2 linked regions of the Homo sapiens genome follow. The protein of the gene in region 1 interacts with the protein of each later gene in a biochemical or structural test. Each region holds a gene or a part of one and is shown on either strand. Other genes may lie near its edges.

Region 1 (3,754 bases):
TAGTAACATGGACAAACTTGTTATTTTTTTCCTGCTATACTTAAAAATAAGGGAAATAAAACTGTACTGTTTTCCAATTGTCAGATTTGACATTTAGAATGTTATTTGTCAAATCTACAGTGACAAAGCCCTTTTACTTAGGTTTAGCTTAAGAACATGCGTATTTGTATCTACAATACTACATGCTAAAAATAAAACAGTATTTGTCCAATATATTGAACATGTGGTATGCCCTTCCAGTTTAAACGTAAACTGAAATTTTACACCCAGCTTATGTTTCTATTTTTGTATTTAGTTTTAATGCCCTATACATAACAATTTAAACTTAATGCTCCTTAACTAGTTTTAATGCATACCATCAGTTCTTTCATACAATTGCCTCCCTATTCTTATTTTAATTCAGGTTCTCTGTTAGCTGCAGTAAATCCTTCAGCAAAATTTTCAGGGAAAGTTCTTGGTTGATATACTTTCCTAACCCCTGTATATCTAAGAATGTCTTCCAGTTTCCTTTGTAAAGAAATGATAACTTGGCAGAGTATATAATTCTTGGCTCAAAATTATTTTCCCTTAACACTCTAGATATTGTTCCACTGTCTTCTGGCATTTAGAATTGCAGGAGAAAAATCTGAGGTCAGCCTGACTTTTGCCCCTTTGTAAGTAACCTGCTTTCTCTGACTGGATGCTTGTAAAATGTTTCGTCTTTGAAATTCAAAAACGTCACCCGGATATGTCTAGATGCTGCTTTCTTTTCATTAAACTTTAAAGGTATCCTATGAGCCTTTTCCATTTGTAGATCTAGTTCGTTCTTCAATTCTGGAAAATTTTTTCAAGTAGATCCTTTATTGTTTCAGCTCCACTTGCTCTGTCCTCAGTTTCAGGTATTCCTATTATGCATAGATTGTATCTCCTGGACCGGCCCTCTAGATCTCTCTTTTTCTCCTCTTAATTTCTTTTCCCCTTTTCTCTGTATTCTGTGACAATTTGTCGTTTTGCACTTACTTCAGTAATTCGATTTTGTGGCCAATCCAGCGTGCGCCCTTCTGTTAACTCTCTCAACTTCCTGGTATTTTCCAAGCGCTCTAATAGTACCCTCTTTATCATCGCGCATAGGTGTTTAAGCTCCTGTATTATATGATTCTCAATCCTTCTTATATCTTGTTTCCATCTCTATATCCGTTTCAAGAGGAGGCATTTTCTCGATTATTTAGCGCTGCTCCTTTTTTCTCAGGGGCGGTATTACGACCTTGGAGACAATAAACATAATTTAATTCCACACAGCCCCAAACAGCCCAAAGATTCCCATTGATAATTATCGACGGCTTTATTAAAATGCGTTATTTTTCTTTCTTACCTTTTCAGTTGCTTTTCTTAGAAACAGGGACCAAAATCAAAGATTAAAGAGGTCCTCTGAAGCAGGGAATGAAATAGACGTTGAAAACTATTCCCGTTACGCCATCTCTGCGCGCCTCACGTCAGGGCCAAGAGCCTAGCGCGTAGCTTTATGGCTGACTCGGCTCTGGCGCTCTAGCCAATTCCGAGGCTGCAAACTCCGCTTCTCCGCTCGCAGTCTGGTTCCTCCCCTGCCGCCCCGCCCATCACGGCAGGGTCACGGTAGCGCGCACGCGCAGCACCCCATTTAAGTTTCTCGTCTTTGCAGTGGCTTTGCTTAGATCCGGTGCCGCCTTGAAGGCGGGGCTGGGTCCCAGCCGTAGCCAATGGAGCCCCGGGTGAGGGTTGAGGGGTGGAAGGTGCCTACTAGCCGGTGCAGGTTTCTTCTAGCGCGTGTGCTGGGGTACCTGGTCGTCATGGAGGCGGTATTGACCGAAGAGCTTGATGAGGAAGAGCAGCTGCTGAGAAGGCATCGCAAAGAGAAGAAGGAGTTGCAAGGTGAGGCGGAAGGAAGTGGGAATCTGGAAGCCGCCGCGACTGGGGGAAGGGCGCGTGGCGGGTCGATTCTGGGGAATCTCAAGGCGTGACTTATCTGGATCACCCTAGACTTCCCCTAGTAGCAAGTGGCCTCTTCTCTCTTCACCTACCCCGGCGGCCCTTTAATTCCCCAACCTTCAGAGGCTTCCCCTTCTGAGGCCTGCGGCGTGCCCCCTACCCCGCGCCGCCGCCGGGGTGCAGGTGTCTGAAAATACCTAGAAGCCGCCGTCTTGGTCCGCTCCCAAACCCACGATGCCTCCCTTTTCTATACCTGCCCCAGTTACCGATACTTGTCCCTAATGGGTGTATTTTGAATGGACCCGCCTCAGTTTAGGAGGTTCAGAAAGGATACCGGAAAGATTTAAAACTGGCTACAGTCAGGTTTTTTTCCTTCTCTTATCTCGCCAAACAACCGAAACATATTCAAGATTTTGTTAATGAAGTTTTTTTTTTTTTTGGTCTCAGCTTTATCTGGGATCTTCTCTCTCTGTAGCTGCCTGTTACGTGATGACTCTTTCTTCCATAATTACTTTTTCTGTACCCTTCGCCCGTTACCATCCCCTTATTGGTTCCTGTTTCTCATCTCCTTTTACTCCTGCGTGTCTGACTTAATGATTTTAATGGCTTTTCAGCCAAAATTCAGGGCATGAAGAATGCTGTTCCCAAGAATGACAAGAAGAGGAGGAAGCAACTCACCGAAGATGTGGCCAAGTTGGAAAAAGAAATGGAACAGAAACATAGAGAGGAACTGGAGCAATTGAAGCTGACTACTAAGGAGAATAAGGTATGTGAAATAAATGTTTGTCGTTGCCTACACCATTTGAAAACAGCTGTCCACTTCTGTTAAATGTTAAACTGCTTTTTTTTTTTTTTTTGAGACGGTGTCTCGCTTTGCAAAACACGCTCAATCTTGGCTCACTGCAAGCTCCGCCTCCCGGGTTCAGGCCATTCTCCTGCCTCAGCCTCCCGAGTAGCTGGTACTACGGGCGCCCGCCACTACGCCCGGCTAATTTTTTGTATTTTTAGTAGAGACAGGGTTTCACCATGTTAGCCAAGACGGTGTCGATCTCCTGACCTTGTGATCCACCCGCCTCGGCCTCCCAAAGTGCTGGGATTACAGGCGTGAGCCACCGTGCCCGGCCCTGTTAAACTGTTTATTATCTAAAATCATAAAATTGGTAGGGAAATGAAATCACTTAGTTATGCTCATGCATCACTTCTCATTAATGTTTTTGTGACCAAGTTTACAGGGCAGTGTGTTTCTATAAGGGAGATCGGCAAAGAAAGTGCTATACTTCTTTACCTATTTACTTGCCCAAAAGATGAAGCTTCACCAAATCAAAGTTGGAAGACCAGGCATCTGATCCCAGAATTGCGACTGAATGGGATTGTAACCTGAGCAAGGTTACTTAATCTTTCTGAGCTCAAATTTTCCCACATATATAATACGATACAAATATTTCTACACTCTAAGCACAGGTTTTTGTAAGAATCAAGAAAGTGAACGTGAAGTCATTTTTGTTATAAAAGTGCTTTATTAACAAGTTGTAATGAATGAAATTTTACTGATGTTTCTTGGGTAAGTTGGAGCATCCTAACTTTCATAATTTTAACTAATATTTATTTTATCGTTGGATCTAATATATATGTGTCAAATACTTTGGTTTATATGTATTATCTCATTTAACCTCAGTAACACACTGTGAGGTATTACCTATGAAGTAAGTATACATAATCCCATTTTTCAAGTGGGAAACAGGGTTAGAGAGATTAAGAACTTTGTCCAGGAGTCGTAACAGCTGTTGATTGCCAAAGCCAGAATTCCAAA
Region 2 (3,754 bases), on another chromosome or scaffold:
GTGTATTAGTGTTTTAAATTCAAGATCCTAGATATTTTAGACTTACATATAATAAAATTACATCAATATTGTTGGGTATAACATTTTTATGTAATCAAAATGGAAGTGAAATTTAATTGCTTTCAATTAAAATTCCTTTCTAGATAATCTCTAAATTTCTTCATCAATACAATTTAGATATTGTAGTTCCCAATTCATAGGCTTTGGGGGTGGATTAAATTATATAACACATTAAAAACCTTTAGCACAGTGTCTAGAATTTAGTAAGCTCTCAGTGAATTGAACCTGTTTATTATTTCTGTTATTACCATTTTAATTCTCTTAAAAGTAAAAGTATGTTTAGTCCTTCTGTATATAGAATATTTTGTTTTTAGCATGATTAAGGTAACAGAGGGGCATGATGCTGGCTTCTATATTCCAGAAGATCCAAATGAAAACTTTTCTGGTGTTAAATGTGTATTTATTATCTAGGAAACTTTTTAAAAGAACATAAATCATCAGTATCACCAACTAACTATTTTTGAAAACTCAGTGTTTTTACCACTGTACTTAGAATATATAAAAATTTAAGTATGGAAAACATACTTAAATAAAAATTAACTTTACTAAAATTGTTATTGTTTAACTGGCTTACAATCTTATGAATTTGGTTATGAGAAGAATGAAATAAAAGAAACTAATTCATTAAAGTATAGGTTGATAGAGGTCAGAAGACATGTACACTATTAAAGAGACTTACTAGTTCTGTGACTCATCAAAGTTTCCTAACTCCTCTCTTGGTATTTTGGGGCTAGTCCTGTGGAGTGAGTAAACAATACCCAAATGTTTATTTAGATTGTGTAGAATCAGTCAGAACAAAATGGGGCCTTCTTTAGGAAGGTTGGTTCCAGGATCTGCCCCTCTTACCTTCAGGAGGTGTACAGGGTAGGCAGATTGCTTCCATCAATATGCTCTGGATCCTTTGCTTGTCAGCTCTCTGTGGTTCTCTAATAACCTTTCTGCCCACCCACCTCCCCACCACCAGCTGGCTGTGATCCAGCACTTCCATGTGTTCAGTTGATTGGCACACAATTTTAATTAAATAACAAGTATTAAAACATACTAGAATAAAAAATAATAGAGCTGAGGAATGTTATTAGTATCATTTCTGGATTTTAGTTGGACTGTACCAAGGTTTAAAATGATCTCTTCAAAGAATCAGTTATTTTTCCTTCAGTTTAGTTCCTGTAATTTTTTTCAATCTGTGACTTTTCTTTAGCCCCTCTGCCTCCCATTTGGAAACTTTATTAATCCTTTTTTTAGTCCGTTTTTCCCAGGAATTTTTATGAAATTCCTTTTCTGTATTCGTACCTTCTTCCTGCCCAAAGCTTGCACTTCTTTCTCTACTCTTTTCTCTGTCCCTGATACTGCTTTACGTACTATCTTTCAACAATTCCTTCCCCTTCAGAAGCTTACAGATCACTGTCAAAATTATCCTTAATGCCCCCATCAGACCCTCAGAATGTGGATTTGAGTTTACATATAAATTCTTATTAACTTAAAATGTTCAAGTACTGTGAAGAATCCTAAGATACATTTTTTTCCATTATACTTTTAGACAAGCAAATCTGGATCTTCCTCTGTGGTATCGCCCCTCTTCCCAATTTTTTTCATCACTCTCAGGATCGAGAGGGAATATATAACTGATGAATATTTTCATTTACACCATTGGAATATTATTTAAAAATTAATGTCTATATTTTAACCTAGTGGTTGTCCGCTGTGCTCAGCTCCATTATTGCTGATATCATTTGAAAATATAATCTGCTTATTCAGTTGTTTGGATCAAAAAATGCAAACATTTTTAATGGTCATAGCAGATCTAAATTCTGATTTCTGAATTAGTTTTCATTTTTTGATGAAATCCTCAGAAATTTGGGTATGTTTTGATTAACTTATTAACTAGTGTAGGTGTTTGGACTTGATTTTTAAAAACTCATGTAATTACTTCAGAATATAATTAAATAGTTCTAAAGGTCTAAACAATTTGTTTTTATTTATTTAACCATCATAAGTGCCTCTATTCTATCCATTGTTGCCATTCTTTCATTTAAAATCTTTTCTTTTTTTTGAGACAGAGTCTCGCTCTGTCGCCCAGGCTGGAGTGCAGTGGTGCAATCTCAGCTCACTGCAAACTCCGCCTCCTGGGTTCACGCCATTCTCCTGCCTCAGCCTCCCAAGTAGCTGGGACTACAGGCCCCCGCCACCATGCCCGGCTAATTTTTTGTTATTTTTAGCAGAGACAGGGTTTCACCATGTTAGCCAAGATGGTCTCGATCTCCTGACCTCGTGATCTGCCCACCTCGGCCTCCCAAAGTGCTGGGATTACAGGCGTGAGCCACCGCGTCAGGCCTTAAAATCTGAAATTATAAATCTTATTTTGATAGTGTCTCAAAAATGTTGACTTTGATTTGATTGTTAATTATCTTCTATCTTTAAACGCTCCTTAAATAAGAAATAATACTTGTAGAATATGCTAGCTCATTAGAATTACAGTATTTATAAAATGATTTTATGAAGAACTTGATAACCGTCTAAGATTAAACTGAACATTTTTGTTTATTTTATCTTTGTTTGTTAAAACAGAGTCTAGCCCTGTTGCCCAGGCTGGAATGCAGTGAATCAATCTTGGCTCACTGCAGCCTCTGCCTCCCTGGATCAAGCAATTCTCCTGCCCCAGCCTCCTGAGTAGCTGGAACTACAGGTGTGCCCCGCCACACCTGGCTAATTTTTTGTATTTTTAGTAGAGACAGGGTTTTGCCATGTTGGCCAGGCTGGTCTCAAACTCCTGACCTCAAGTGATCTGTCCGCCTCAGCCTCCCAGAAGTGCTGGGATTACAGGCATGAGCCACTGCACTTGGCCTATTTTATCTTATTTGTAATGCATGAGAAAATATCCTTTGTGCCATTGGTTCAGCATTTAATAAAGTACTTAGCATGAATAATTTTATTTTTTATGTTGGACTATGGGAATATATAATAAAGTATGAGTATAGTTTTCTTTGTATGGTCTTTTGTGTGAGACTATGTCCTTATATTTCTTAAGCATATAGCTAAAAATGGACACACATGATATTTTTATGCTCACATCACAATGTAAAATTCATTCCAACTACAAAGGCAAACTGATGTGGAACAGTGTGGAGGGTGAACAAAGGGGACTAAAATCATGTATAGCTTGTATGGAGTATATAGTTGTGGTATAATTTGTGAGCTGCAAGGTAGCTGAACATTTCTATTTTGGTGTCAGTCCCTTGGGAAGGAAGGGGTTTCATAATGGAGAGTGATCTGTACTCTTAGTAAGAGTGATTGACACTGAATGATTAAATAGAAGAGAATATAAATACCACTCCTCCCCCTTTTAAGGCTAAGCACATAGACACTAAATGCAAATCTTTTCAATGTGGAAGAAAGTCTGGCCTAATGATAGCACATATCAGGAAAGCCAAGGGGGTGAATTAACTATGCAGATCAAAATGTAAGGAAACCAAAATTATATAGCATCCTTAAAAATAACTTTTATAGCCCAAATCTAATGGTAAATGCACAGATAGAGGGTAATTGAAGATCCCATTTGTGAAAGTAGAATACTGACATCAGGCTCCTGGTCAATGAGTGGGCAAAATGGTTCCCTGAATTGGATAACACAGTGCATACCACGGTGACTGATAAAATTGATGTGTCTGCAGGAGAGCCAGCCCTATTACTGAAGCCT

What was found.
Region 2: the proteins of OTUD6B (region 1) and LIN28B form a complex in vitro, tested with the Homo sapiens proteins (one study listed by BioGRID).

The regions. Positions count from the first base shown.
Region 1 is NC_000008.11:91,068,580-91,072,333, forward strand, and holds the start of OTUD6B (deubiquitinase OTUD6B), read left to right. Parts: upstream 1-1,764; 5' UTR 1,765-1,805; coding exon 1,806-1,887; intron 1,888-2,558; coding exon 2,559-2,710; intron 2,711-3,754.
Region 2 is NC_000006.12:105,072,106-105,075,859, forward strand, and holds part of LIN28B (protein lin-28 homolog B), read left to right. Parts: intron 1-3,754. UniProt on the Homo sapiens protein: Suppressor of microRNA (miRNA) biogenesis, including that of let-7 and possibly of miR107, miR-143 and miR-200c.